Linked DNA regions of Homo sapiens. The protein of the gene in region 2 interacts with the protein of the main gene of each other region in a pairwise test. Each region holds a gene or a part of one and is shown on either strand. Other genes may lie near its edges.

Evidence for each region. Proteins that work in one complex are often made in the same cells at the same time.
Region 1: the proteins of SRPK1 (region 2) and DGCR8 interact in binary tests that used the Homo sapiens proteins (3 or more experiments, as listed by UniProt).

Annotation. Positions count from the first base shown.
Region 1 is NC_000022.11:20,083,241-20,090,240, reverse strand, and holds part of DGCR8 (microprocessor complex subunit DGCR8), read right to left. Parts: exon of another isoform or gene 4,969-7,000; intron 4,555-4,968; 5' UTR 4,278-4,554; coding exon 3,558-4,277; intron 3,080-3,557; coding exon 2,920-3,079; intron 573-2,919; coding exon 430-572; exon of another isoform or gene 398-429; intron 266-397; coding exon 1-265.
Region 2 is NC_000006.12:35,918,099-35,925,239, forward strand, and holds the start of SRPK1 (SRSF protein kinase 1), read right to left. Parts: upstream 3,001-7,141; 5' UTR 2,959-3,000; coding exon 2,946-2,958; intron 2,431-2,945; coding exon 2,370-2,430; intron 1-2,369. UniProt on the Homo sapiens protein: Serine/arginine-rich protein-specific kinase which specifically phosphorylates its substrates at serine residues located in regions rich in arginine/serine dipeptides, known as RS domains and is involved in the phosphorylation of SR splicing factors and the regulation of splicing.

The sequences.
Region 1 (7,000 bases), on a different chromosome or scaffold from region 2:
ACACCTCGACTTTGGCCTTCACCTGCCCCAGGGCCCCAGGGGCTGCCTCAGCCCCTAGTGGGTCTTTCTCGTCCGGGGGCCCCGGGTCAGCACCCATAGAGTCAGGCTCATCCAGGGGAAACTCCAGCTCTGCAGATCGGCTCAGGGGCTTGACGGGGGACACATCCCCACTAGGGGTGAGGTCACTGCTTTGCTCCCGTTCCTCGTTGTCCTTCATTTTCTTATAATGCAGACAAGGGATGCTACTCAGAGGAGGGTCGTGTTTCTGTGGATAGTGAAATTGCAATATGGATTACAAGGACAACCCGAGAGTCTGAAACTCTGATGCCTTTCACCGGCCTCTGCTTGGCTGCGGTGCCATGTGTGTGGATGTGCACGTTTTGGTCTGAGAACTTACAAGCCTAAAGTCACGACTGATGCCTCCCCTACCCGTATGCTTCCCGTTCCCAAGAAGTATGGCCTGGACCAGGTGACCACCCGAGACTCTCTGTGTAGGTACACCGGGACTCCAGAGTTATGGAATGTCATGATCCACCCGTCGGGCAGCGGCTCTGTAGGTGGGCGGCCACGACCTGCACAGGAAGACAAGAACATCCTATAATCACTGTAAAAACACTTGGAATTGTTGCCACAGCACCTCCTGCACAAGAAATTGTTGGGTACTAGCATGTGTTTAACTGGGTCTTCACAGATAATCGAAATTCCTCTCTGCCTTGCTCACTGCTATGCCTCCAGGCCTAGGACAGATAGCATGTGGCCTGAGGTGGGAATTTACACGTGTCAAACCAGCACATGAAGGAGCACAGAACAGGTCTGTGCAAGATATAAGTCCCAGCCTCAGCTCCTGCCTCCACATCTGGTAAGCACTGTGGACACTGGACTCCTTTGCTGCCTGTCTGGTTGTGGCCAGAGGCGCCTTGGGGCTGGATGAGCTTTGCTAATAAACTGCATGGCTGTCAGCCACTGCTCCCAGTGACCAGGTGACAAGTCTTTATTGTAACTGAGCTGCACTCTCAGCAGCATACAAAACACTGCTTCAAATGATTCCGTTTCTAAGTTGGTTTAATACACTACTCCCAACCCCTTCTTTGCTTTATAGGCAGTTGTGAGGAAGAGGTTTACGACTTATCAACTTGACACCTGCCACCAGGCCTGACTGCTGGGAAGAGCGTAAGGCAAAGATGTAACTAAAACTTAATTTTCTCACAGGTATTGGGAACAAGTTAAAAACTTAGAAAGACCAGCCTAGGCAACACAGCAAGACCCTGACTCTACAAAAAACTTTTTAAAATTATCCAGGCATGGTGGCATACACCTATAGTCCTGGCTACTTGGGAAGCTGAGGTGGGAGGATCACTTGAGCCTGGGAGGCTGAGGCTGTAGTGAGCTACTCCAACCTGGGTAACAGCAAGACCCCGCCTCAAAAAAAAAATTAAAAAACAGAAGAAAGCAAATGAAACCTTAAAAAATATACATAAGGGGAAAAAGGGCCAGTGACTCTCAGGGCTAGGTACCCACCAAGTGGCCCTGACCCTGGACCTGACACCTGTACCCAGGCCACCATCAGGTGATGATTCAGGGAGGGAGTGTTAAAGGTCAGGGGTGCATGCACACTGCGTGGGCTCTCTCCCCACAGAGTCAGGCCAAGATGGAGCTGCCTCCTGCCAGCTTTAGGTTAAGTCAGGAAAAGAAGCAAAGGGAATACGGAGCCAAGCAAGAGACGGGCCACGGGTCCGCTGGGGCTGCTCCTCTGTGACAGTGAGTGGTCACAAAGTTGGCCCAGCCACCTGAGGTGGGGGTCACATGCAGCTGTCCGTCTGTGAACATCCAGGCATCCAGGCCAGAATGGCTGCTGACCAGTGAGCTGTGCAGGACGAATGTGGGTTTACCTTCTGAATGAGCCTGTTGAAAATGCAGCACCAAACCAGCCTCCTAGAGGCCCCGAGGTCAAGACTCCTGCCCCCAGCCCCAGAAGCTGAAGCCCCAGGTTTACCCTGCCTGCAACCGTCTAGACCAAAAGCCCTCCTGCTTAACTGCTACCAACACGACATAGGCAGCAACATGTGGCACCTGGCATAGCTAACTTGTCCCCTCAATGGCCCAAGGAGGATGGCCATGTGCCACCCGCCCCTTGCTTTGCTCCCAGTCGCACCCTGCCACCTTGTGCACCCCAGCCCTCAGCCTGGGGTCTCACCTGTGAGCCTGAGTCCCCGTGCATCTCTTCAGTCCCTCTACCGAGCCCCACATCTCCACCAGGACCCTCATAGGTGCCTCCAAGCCACCAACTCCGACTCCCCCAACACCTGCACCACATCGATGACAGAGCCTCACAGTGCAACTCTGGGCGCCTCTCAAGTGCTCTCCCCACTACCCTCAACTCAAAGTTGAGGAAGTGCCACGTCGACCAGGGCACTTCCACCCTGCCCAGCTGAAGTGCACACACCATGCTGTGGCCCAGAAGCCATGTTGTTAAACAAAAATCAGGTAACACCACTTGCTTCTGGTGGCTTCCTGTGACACTTGGTCCAGGACTAGAACCTGGATCACAACTATCACCTGCCATCTCACTGTGTACCCACCTTGCCCTTGGTCTCCACACCCTCCAGCTGATGGTCATGCTGGCTCCTGGCATATACCAACATCCCCTCCTGACCCCCTCAGAAGTCCCCTCCCATTCCTCTGCACAGTGCCTGCTGCTCTGTGGTTTCCATAGCACACACCAGGATCCGCATCTGGGTCATGCATCAGGACGTCCTCCCATCCTGTGTTTCCCTCCTCAGATATTTCTGTCCTGTCCTCAAACATGCCTCCACCCAGCCCACTACCTGGCACCAGAGCTCTCTCAAAGCATTTCTGCTAAGGAAGCAACCACCCCTCCACTGCCCTGGAACACCCACTGCTTCTGACCCACACACGTACTTTTGAGCACTGTTTTAATCTTGGTCATCATCGGCTGCACACTTGTCTCTCCATCGGACGGATGGTCGCTGTCTCCGCCATATTTTTCCTCTGTTCGCCTCTTTTTGGGGGCACAAAGGCCTTCTTCCAGCAGAGCATCCACATCGTTGTCAAAGTCATCCTGCAAAACACGCTGTTCAGACACCAGAGCCCCTGGCGCTCATGCTCCTGCAACAGGAGAGCTCAACAGCATTCCTGAGAACAGACACAGAAAGGAGGTGCTCTCAGGGGGCCTAGATGTGCCCTTAGGGTGCATGATCATCTGAAAAACAAACAGGATGAAGCTACCAGCTGACACCAACACACCTGGTCCAGGGGCACACACTGCCAAGGAGCGTAACTCAGCAGCACCTGCTGCCCCACGCGCTAGATCAGGGATGCAGGGCCTACCCATGGGCCAAACTTTTCATTAGGAAACTTTAAAAATCTGGACTCCTTACATCTTTCTCTTCTCCACATTAACATTATTCCACCTCAGAGGGGATTTTGGTTTTTGTTTTTTTTTTTTTTAATTTCCCTGCTTTCAAAAGATGCTGCAATTCCCAAATCTCTCTTTGGGTTTTGCTAAGAGCCCTCTAGAGGAGGGGCTGCCAACATACCTCGTAGGGGAAATTCAAGGCCTCTTCATCCACTCTGTCTCTCTGAACGATTGCTTTAGCCGTGAACCCGCCTGCTCCTTCTTCATCTAGCTCCAAATTGTCAGTAAAATCTTCTAACTCATCGAGCACTGCATACTCCACTCTCTTTTCCTGATCCAGCTCATTCTCCTCATCCTTCTTATCAGCACTCTCACCCCCTATGCCTACCCCGTCACCAACACTCCCGCCAAAGGGACAAGCATGCACGTCCCCACTGACAGGGCTAAGGAGCAGACCGCACTCCGCCCGCACGTCGCGCTCTGCTCCTGTGTACAGCACCTTCCTGTCCTTACTCCTGCAGCTCTCGGTAAAGCTCACGCTAATCTTTACATCCTTAAGCAACTTAAGGTCAGGGGAGAACTTCCGGACCGCAGGTGCGTGCCGGGCGGTGCGCGGGCTGTGGCCACTACAGTTCGGGTCTATGAGGAGGCGGCCCTTAGAGAAGGATCCTTTGGAGAGAAGAGAAGCTCCGTAGAAGTTGAAGGGGTCCTCAGCAGGGAGTTCGGACTGTCCATCACCACCAGAGCCAACGTCCATTACCTCTGCACCACTGGACGTTTGCAGGGGAGGTGGTGGAGACTGCTCACGGGGCAGCGCTTGGAAGGGGCGAGCTCGGCTCTCCATCACCGCTTCTCCTGCGGGCCCACACGGGAGCGGAGAGGGGCTCTCATCTGTCTCCATATTAAAAGCGCTTAAGACTAGTTTACAAGACCAGAGTTTTACAAGCCCTCACATAAATCTACACAGCTAACATGCACAAGTCCGCTGAGACCCGGGCGCGTCCTGCCGCGCTGTGCGCTGGCGGCTTAGTCAAGCTGGCCACATTGCTCTTTTCATTAATGTAGACAGCTTTTAGAACCACTGCCTCAATTATTGGAAATCACAATGCACTCAGCTTAAGTGACTGGCGACTAAGCGAGTCTGTCTTCATGCCGGAGTGGCACCTTTCTTCTTCTACCTGCAAAGAAATTTAAAAATATCGTCACAAAATGACAGAAACCTTCCAATTCCCTGGTACCAAGTTAAAAGCCAAGCACTATTAACAGCATAGTAAAGGGCTTCAAAATAATATTCCCTAAGAGGACTTTTTAGGCATCAAAACAAACTAACCTTACTTTTATTCTTCAGAACCTGAATTATAACTTAAGTCCAAAGTTAAATATTTTGTTAATGCCCACTTTAATTCCTACTTCAGAAACACAAAAACTATATAATCATAAGGCTCAAAAAATATTTTAAAAATTTACACTAAACTCCACCACAGCATTCTTCTAACTCAGATAAGCAAGCATGCAGTGGGAGGCACCCTTTCTGGAACACACAGAAGGCGCGTGGCCTCCCTCAGGCCACCAGAGCACAGCAATCCACTCACCTGCAAGGGCTGGGTCAGTCAGAGGGCGAGCGCGAGACCCTCAGCTCAACTCTGCGGCACTAGGGGCCTCAGAGGCATGGCCAGGCGCTCTGCTACCCAGGGACCCCAGGGCTCTCCTGGGCCCACAGGGTAGCACGTGGACGGGGACAGTGATGCAGCGTGCTGAGGTCACCAGAGGTGGCAGCATAGTTCTGTTCCCGATGGAGGAGAGGGGTGGGTGGCTGTGGGGAAGGGACCTGCCAGGATTTGGGGTGGGGAGCCACAAGAGACAGCTGGAGCCGAGGCACAGAGAGGCCTGGGTGCCACCTGCAGCCCGTTCCGCCCTGGGGACAATAAGGAGCCACTGAAGGTGAAGCGACTCTCATGCCACAAGTAGGTTCCTACTTGAGAGGGGAGACCCACAGCTGTGCCAGGCAGAAGCAACTGCATCCAAGGCACGGGGACAGTCCTCCAGGCCAGAGGACAAAGGTGTGAAAGAGGCCCTGGCAATGGGCCAAGAACAGTGTCACAGAACTGACCGCACTTGTTGACCCAACGGAGGTGGATAGCAGAGAAAAGAGGGAACTAAAGACAAGGAAGGACACCCAAATTCCAGCATGCAGGCAGGAGCCTGGCGAGGAGAACAGAGGGGACCTCCAGGCAGGCTCTGAAGGTGCCGAGGCCACAACTCTGGAGCCATGACTGGTCCAGATACGGAAGGCCAGGACGCACTGAGGAGGTAGTCGCCAAACCCACAGGAGGAAGGCCACCCAGAGATGAGGGTTAAGGATGCAACTCTAGGAAGCCTTACTACAGAGGAAGCATGAAGAAAGGGACAACATGAAGCAGGGAAGATGGGTCTGAGGGGGCAGCCAGAAAACCCTGCATCAGAGCAGAAGGAACACATGCAGACACACGCACATGCACACTCCCACAACGTGCACAGGAACACGCATGCATGCACATGCGTGCATACCAGTAAAGATGCACACATGCAAACCGCACTGCATGACCTAACATCCTCCCAAGATTCCCGGAAAGAACAGGAGATGCAGACATCACACATTTAACAAGGGACAAGGCATGGTGGATGTACTTCGAAGGGGACACAACATGAAAACCAGAGACTAGTTTAGGTTTAATCAATACATTTAACAACTATCCACTGGCCATCTACTCCGAGGAACGCACTATATGGACAAGAGACAAGGTCACAGGGCCTGGACACACTGGCAGGTCAATGACCACTGCACTGTCACCCCATTTCCTGGATTCTAAGATGTCCTAACATTTCTGAATCTAATGGGAATTTCACACCGTATGTTCCCAAAGATGTGTCCATCAAAGGTGCTGAGGATCCAGGAAACACAGCACAGAGCTAACAACTGACTATAAAGTGCTGAAGACGCTCAAGAGGCTGTGGGCAGCAACCAGGCAGGCATGAGGAACACTAAGTGGGGTGAGGTCAGTCTCCTGGCAACCAAGAAAGACCATTAGAGAAAACAGACCGAGGGGTCAATGCGCCCAGTGCCACAGATTACAAGGAAGACCAGGGCCACACACCTCAGAACCTGGCAGTCCCATAGAGACCCTGGTGAGTCAATCCATGATTCTGGGACACAAAAAGCTACATGAAGAAGCCACAAGGAGCAGGGGATTAGAGACCAACAGTGGGACGGAATGGGGAAGCCTGCTACCACAGAAGGCGAAGAAGCAGCTAGAGTAGACGTTCCAAGCAAAGGTGCTAATGGGGCCAAGCGGCGGCACTGAAGAAATGCACAGCAGGAAAGCCTGGTGCCTTACAAGTGAGTGAGCTCCTTAGGAAAGCAGGAAACCTGCCCAGCCCCAGACCTCAGTGGTGGGCAGTCCTGGGCAAGTTCCTTCCTCCCCTCTATAAGCTTTCTCCATTCATCACACACACACACACCATCCTAGATGCTACAGACACAAGGTGGACAAAACCCTGCCCTACAGAGCTCACATTTTAGTGGGGGAGATGGACCGCTAACAACTAAGAAAAGCATGCACCCTGTCACATGCCAAGAAGTATTCA
Region 2 (7,141 bases):
AACTTCTAACACAGTACTCTAACCAACTTAATTAGACATTTCAGCTACTTAAAAGGAGGCTGGGATACAAACAAAAGAAAAGAAAGACAGAAAGAAAGACAAAAAGGAAGAAAGAAAAAGAGCAAGGTGCAGTGGCTCATGCCTGTAATCCCAGCACTTTGGGAGGCTGAGGCAGGCGGATTACCTGAGCTCAGGAGTTCGAGACCAGCCTGGGCAACATGGCGAAACTCTCTCTCTACAAAAAATACAAAAATTAACCAGGCGTAGTGGCACACGCCTGTAGTCCCAGCTACTTGGGGGGCTGAGGCAAGAGAATTGCTTGAATCTGGTAGGTGGAGGTTGCAGTGAGCCGAGATCGCACCATTGCACTGCAGCCTGGGCAACAGGCTTTCTTTTTGCCTCAAAAAGAAAAAGAAAAAAAAGGTAGGTAAATTCAAAAACAAACAAACAAAAAAAACTTATTAATTGGAAACAAATCCAAAAATAAAACACCTCTGAAGTTACAAGGAAATGGGGGCAGTTCATTCACGCATATTTTCAGGATTCAAAGTTGTTCAAGATGAAATATTCAGTAAAATGACTGCTAGATTATCTATAATCCATACTTGCAAACAATTAACACAAATAACTCTAAGTTATCCATAGTAGTGAATGGGGTAACAGATACACATCTGACTTTAGAAATAAAGCATATGGTCTAAATAGATAATCGAAAGTAACAGATTTCTGGTGCTTAAAGTATATCATCTATATACATTTACCCCTCAAATTACAGCTTGATTTGGGCTAATCTCAAATTAATTTCTAAGTGGTAAGAGAGATCTGGACAAATAGTCTGAGAGACCAGGATTTCTAAAAAATACAGAGTAATATAATAAAAACTGCAACTTCCTTGTATCAATAGAAAAGAACGTTTTAACACATTCTCATCAATTCCACAAAGAATAACTAAACTAGGCACAGAAAAGTAACATTTCAAGTCCTACTGCACACTAGAACCAAGTTAGCACCTTGCTGTTTCTATTAAACGATCTAGGATTAAAAACTGGTTTTGAATAATCCCATATATGGATAATCCAAAGGTAAACAGACACACACAAACTCTCATTTACAAGACTTCGTCACCAAGCACTTACAAAATACATTTCATAAGACAGAAGAGAAAATGGAGCAAGAGGTGAGGTCACCTACCACTTTAGTTCTATTGAAAGAGAGAAGTCATTATGTGCTCTCCCCAAACAGTAGGTAGCCTCCAAAAACAACACACACCCCTACACCCCCCTAATCTGGTATTGTCATTCAGTGGGGTGACCTAGGAAGGCCTTTGAAATGTGTTGTATCAGCTCAGAGGGAATTAGACCGCATACGATGCCACAAAACATCAAATAAATGTAAAACTATAAAGATAATACATCTAAAATTAAGATGTATTAATAACTAGGCATACAAGCTCTCTCTGAATACAAAGTGTGTAAGAGCTGATTTCCAAGATCCTTTGCAATTAAACGTTAGTACATGATGAAAGTTCTTAAGGCTTAGCCTCACTTGCTGCTAAGCCTGCTACCTGAGTTTCTACTAGGCTGTGACCAACTTTTGAACTTGCCACGATAGCACTAAACTACTGTTATGCATCCTACTGATAAAACTGGACATGTGGCGCTTAATACGCCAAACCAGAATCATCAATGTTTGTTAAAGAACTCTCCCGTTACTATTGTGATGTCCACTCCGGAAGATTATCTGCATCTGGTTGAGGTTTAGACAGAAGAGAAGCAGTTAACAGACACCGACTGTATACACAGCGGTCTGCCGGCACACTGCAAAAAAGCCGATACGCCTTACAGGCTCAGGAAGTTGACTAACCCAGGGAAAAGCCCCATGCCCTCCTCTATGAAAGGGAGTGTGTGGTTGGTAGAACCCAAAGTAAACACGGAAAAATTCATTCAAGAATTTCCTTAAGGCCTACCGTGAAGACGTCGGAGGCAAGTTAAGACGTTGGGGAGCAGGTAAGAGAGACCAGAGTTCAGAAACAGACCGATAATGATCTACCAGCTCCGGTGGGGAGGTCCAAGCTAGGGGAGTTTGTGCCTCCTCTGTGGAGTTGGGGAGGAAAGGTACCGGGCGGGCTCTGGTCCTCCTCCGACAGCCCTTTCCAGCAGGCCCGGGGCTGCTAAGACCCAGGCCTGGCGTTGAGCAACAGCAGCTCTCTTCCACATGGTTGCTGGAGAGCGACCCTCCGAGCTGCCCCGAGGCCATGTGGCTGCAGCCACAGGGTGCCCAAACCCGGTGCACGTTCAAGACGTGAAACCAGAGCAGAGAAGGTGCCGGAGGAAAATCCAAAGAATGGGATGTTGGGGTACAAGACTCACTTCCTTTGGGCTTTGTCCTTCTTGGCCTTGGTCCTTTTCTTTCGGGCCTGGAGCGCAAGCACTGCAGGAGAGAGGGATGGATGAAGGGCGAATGTGGAGGAAAGGAGGCGACCAAGGTGAGGGTGGAGACCCAGCAGGGGCGCCAGGCCCGGCTGCGGGGCCTGCCTCGGGGGCGGCTGCGGGCTCCGGCGAGGCGGCCGGCCGTGGGGCTGGCGGCCCACGGGGCGCAGAGCAGCGCCCGGGCGGGATGCGCCGGAGGGGTCTCAGGCCGGGTCAGGGGGCGGGCGGGTGGGGGTCTGCGTCGCCCGCCAAGGGCCGGGCCCTGGAGTGGCCCCAAGGCGCGAGCCGGCCTGGCGGGGAACAAGGGGCGGCTACGGCCGGCGCCAGAGGACGCCCGGACTGAGGGGCGCGGACCCGCAGCCCAGAGGCAGGGGGTGTGGGGCGGCGCCACCTCAGTGGAGGGGCGCCGCACGTCCGGGAACCGAACCGCGGCAGTTAAGCGAAGCTCCCGGCGCTGACCCGGGCCTCGCCCCGGCGACCATTGCCCCTCGTGGCGGAGGCCGCTCCACCGCTCACCTTTCCGCTCCATGGTGAGACCGGTAATCGCCAGGCGCCTGCGCACTCGAGTGGCGGCGACTCCCGCTCCCGCCGCGGCCCAAAACCGAGCCCGCTCACACTCCGCCCTCAGTCCCGCCCCACCCCCGCCCCACGATGCCGCGCGCTTGCGCGTTGGGCGCGGAGCCTACCACCTGCTCCCGAGGAGGGGGCGGCAAGGAGAGGGAGGGGGCGCAGCGGGGAGGAACGCCGGGGTGAACGTTGAAGGAGTGTTAGAGATCCAAGCTTGGAAACCTGGCAAGGTTAGTTTTGTTCTATTTGTTTAGAAAAGGCGCAGAGAGCGGCAGGGCTCTCTGCATGCTGCTGAGTCAGAGCTTCGGAGGCAACTGGGATCTGCCTCAGTTTCCTGGCCTGTAAAATGGATTAATCAGGCATGTCCCAGTTTCTCCTTCCCTGAGCTATTGTGAGCCCAGTTGAGATACTATTTAAAGAAAATGGAAAAAAATTACATGTGAGAAAGAAAAGGGAGTGGGAGCAACACAAAAAGACTGGAAGGAAAGAACCTGTGACCCTATTATCACTTGAAAAGTAAAAACTTCAAAAGTGAATTTTCTCTTGAAATTTCAAGTTTAAGTGAAAGCTGTAAAGGAAAGAAGGGGAAATGAGAATAAAAACGTTTAATGTTTTCTTATTCTACCACCTTCAATACATGATAAAGCTGTCTTGTTTATAAGTTTTTTTTGTTTTTATTTTCTAAGTGCATTATCTCATTTGATGTTTATGGCAACTTAAAGGCAAAATAGTTATTACTTCCATTACACAAAGACACTAAACTTAAGAGGGCCTGCCTATATGTTCAGAATCTTGGTGTACGACCCAGTTATTTAATCATGAAGCCCTTATTGTATAGCAGGCTCAGCAAAGTTTTTCTTTGGGCCGTACAGTAAATATTTAGGCTTTGTGGACCATAAGATCTCTTTCTCAGCTACTCAACTCTGCCATTGGAGCTCAAAAGCAGTCATAGAAAATATGGGCTGTGTTCCTATAAAGATTTATGTATGGACACTGAAATTTGAATTTCATATAATTTTCACGTCATAAAATGTTCTTCTATTGATTTAAACATGGTCTTTGTTAGGTTTTGAAGGGAAGGTGAGGGTTAAAGAAAGACAGAGAGAGCAGTCTTGCTCTGCTGCCTAGGCCGGAGTACAGTGGCATGATCTCGGCTCACTGCAGCCTGGACATCCAGGGCTCAAGTGATCCTCCCACCTCAGCCTCCCAAGGTGCTGGAATTACAGGTGTGAGCCACTGAGCCAGGCCCTTTTGATCTTTTTTCAACCGTTTCAACGGTTATTCTTATTTCAGATCTTAGTTTACCAACCCATGTTGTAAAGTACCGCAGCTGGACAGAGTGGAAGCTCTGAAGACCTTTGCTCTGAACAAGTAATTGAGAAGGGAAGATGAGAGGGCAATAGTACAGCACAAGTCAAGCATGGGGGCTTTGGCAGAACTTATTGAGCAAAGTAAGTAATTAAGCCCATCCAGAGAAGGCAGTTTTTGAGCTGGGTATTAGGAAATATGTAAGATTTCTATAGGTGGAGAAGGAGATGTCAGGCATTCCTGAATGAGAAAATACATTGAGCAAAAAGGCACAGACGTGGACACCTGTAGGTGGGGGCTAGGATTGGGGCTGGTAACAACTGAAGGGATGAAATGGAAGGTGAGGCTGGAAAGGCAGGTTAGCCAAATTTGAAATTTAGATAATTGATATATGTTGCATGGAACCTGAATGATAGCATGTCTGAGTATATTGCAAAAGAAGACAGTACCTGTTGGCCAAGGAAGGATGCAGCCCAGTCTATTCCCTGCTGTAAAGTTGAAAACAAAAGGAAGGTTAGGACAGACAGGGAAGCCCTAGACTCTGAGGGTTGTGTGAGTTCAGGATAACCGCGTGTGGTTTAGAAAAGACAGGGAGAGAGCTGATAGCTAGGAAAAATCCCAGAATTGGGAAAGTACTGCCCACCCCAAAGTAAACTGTTTGAGTGTAGAGACCCTGCTTAGGTTTTCCTTGATGTAAACTCAGTGCCTACACAGTGTTAGGCACTTAGTAGGTGCTCATATATTTGTCTAATAAAAGAATAAATGGGCCAGGCACAGTGGCTTATGCCTGTAATCCCAGCACTTTGGGAGGCCGAGGCGGGCAGATCACAAGGTTAAGAGATCGAGACCATCCTGGCCAACATGGTGAAACCTCATCTCTACTAAAAATACAAAAGTAGCCGGGCATGGTGGCACATGCCTGTAATCCCAGCTACTTGGGAGGCTGAGGCAGGAGAATCGCTTGAACCCGGGAGGCGGAGGTTGCAGTGAGCCGAGATTGCACCACTGCACTCCAGCCTGGGCAACAAGAGCAAAACTCCGTCTCAAAAGAAAAAAAAAAGAATAAATGATCTGCAGTTTATGAGAAATGTCAGGATGAAAGAGAGAGAAAACACTGAGAGGGACAATATTAGAGCTGTATTAAATCTGAATTGGTTATTGCAGACCCATCAAAAAGGAAATATGTTCAGCTTGGCATGATACAGTCGTACCTATCCTGACTCTGAGTAGGCTATTGCTTCTCTAAGAGCTTACTAACCATCTGTTTAATAACTCGTTTTCAGAATTTTTCCAGAGTCAATGTGAAGTTCACTGGACTGAGTTCCCAGAATTGACCATTTCTCTTTTTTTTCCATCTGTTTTTCTCTATTCCTCCATCATGCTTTGGCTCTCCACTTTTTCTAAGACCTCTATAACTGTTCATGTAAGCACGTTTGTTCATTTCCCCTATTCTACAACCATCCCCTTTTTGTGCATTTTGCTTGAAATGTAACTTTAAAAATAGTTTCTTCTCCCAAGTTTGCAGAGCTTGGCCTATTCTGGACTTTTAACTTTCCAGAATTTTTTTTTTTCTTTGACAGGGTCTCACTCTGTCACCCAGGCAGGAGCGCAGTGGCGAAATCTTTCCTCACTGCAACCCGGGCTCAAGCAATTTTTTCACCTCAGCCTCCCCAGTAGCTGGAACTACTACAGGCACATGCCACCATATCCACTTGATTTTTGTGTTTTTTATAGAGATGGGGTTTTGCCACATTGCCCAGGCTGGTTTGGAACTCCTGGGCTCAAACAATCTGCCCCCCTTAGGCTCCCCAGAAACTATTCTTAAAAGTGTTAGCAAAAAAAAAAAAAAAAAGTGTAGGCCAAGCACAGTGGCTCATGCCTGTAATCCCAACACTTAGGGAGGCAGAGGCAGGAGGATACCTTGAGCCTAAGAGTTAGAGACCTGCCTGGGCAATACAGCAAGACCCTTTTCTGCACAAAAAGGAAAAAAGAAAGACACAAAAAAAGTGGTAGCTATTCATTCTTACATGCATACCCCTTCTCCATCAGCTATTTTTTTCCTGCAAGTCCCTTTAAAAGTAGAGGTATTCGGAAACCATAACCCATCATATTTTTGGCTGCTCATGGTAGTCTCAGAATTTAATTTCTGAAAAGATCCTATCCCTTTTGAGCTAACTTACTTATTAAGACTCCCTGGAATCTTCTCTAATACTTCTTTGACATTTTAGAAATCTGAACGTCTAAAGTTGAGTTCACACGTTTCTTCATACCCAACATTGTCTGCCTTGATTATCACAAATTATTATGCTTTGTCTAAAGTTTTGATCTGACTTAAATCCAAAGCAACACATCCCTTTATGGCCTCCCCTACGTCTTGCGAGATGAAATGGACAACAGGAGAAAGTGAAAATACATGAGATGATTTATTTTGAATGAGTTAAGATTTCCAATAGCTGTCTGCATAATTGGAAAACCCCAAAAAAACTTTCTCTTACCTTTTGGATACATGGTTTTGTGAATTATATTGGGAAAATCTACATATTATAGGCCTGGGTATCAGGAAACACATGGCACATTTAAAGGCTAATTGAAGAGAATTTAATGAAGGAATAAAGGTGTTAAGGAAAACAAACAAGGGATAGTTAGACATCCAGGGACTAGCAACAGCTGGAGTTTTTACCATCTCTAGGCCTGAAGGGAGAAGAGGATGGAGGTGTTATCAGAACCCAGGGAGAGGTTTATTATTAACAATTTGCCAGGGGCCGGACGCGGTGGCTCACGCCTGTAATCCCAGCACTTTGGGAGGCCAAGACGGGTGGATCACCTGAGGTCAGGAG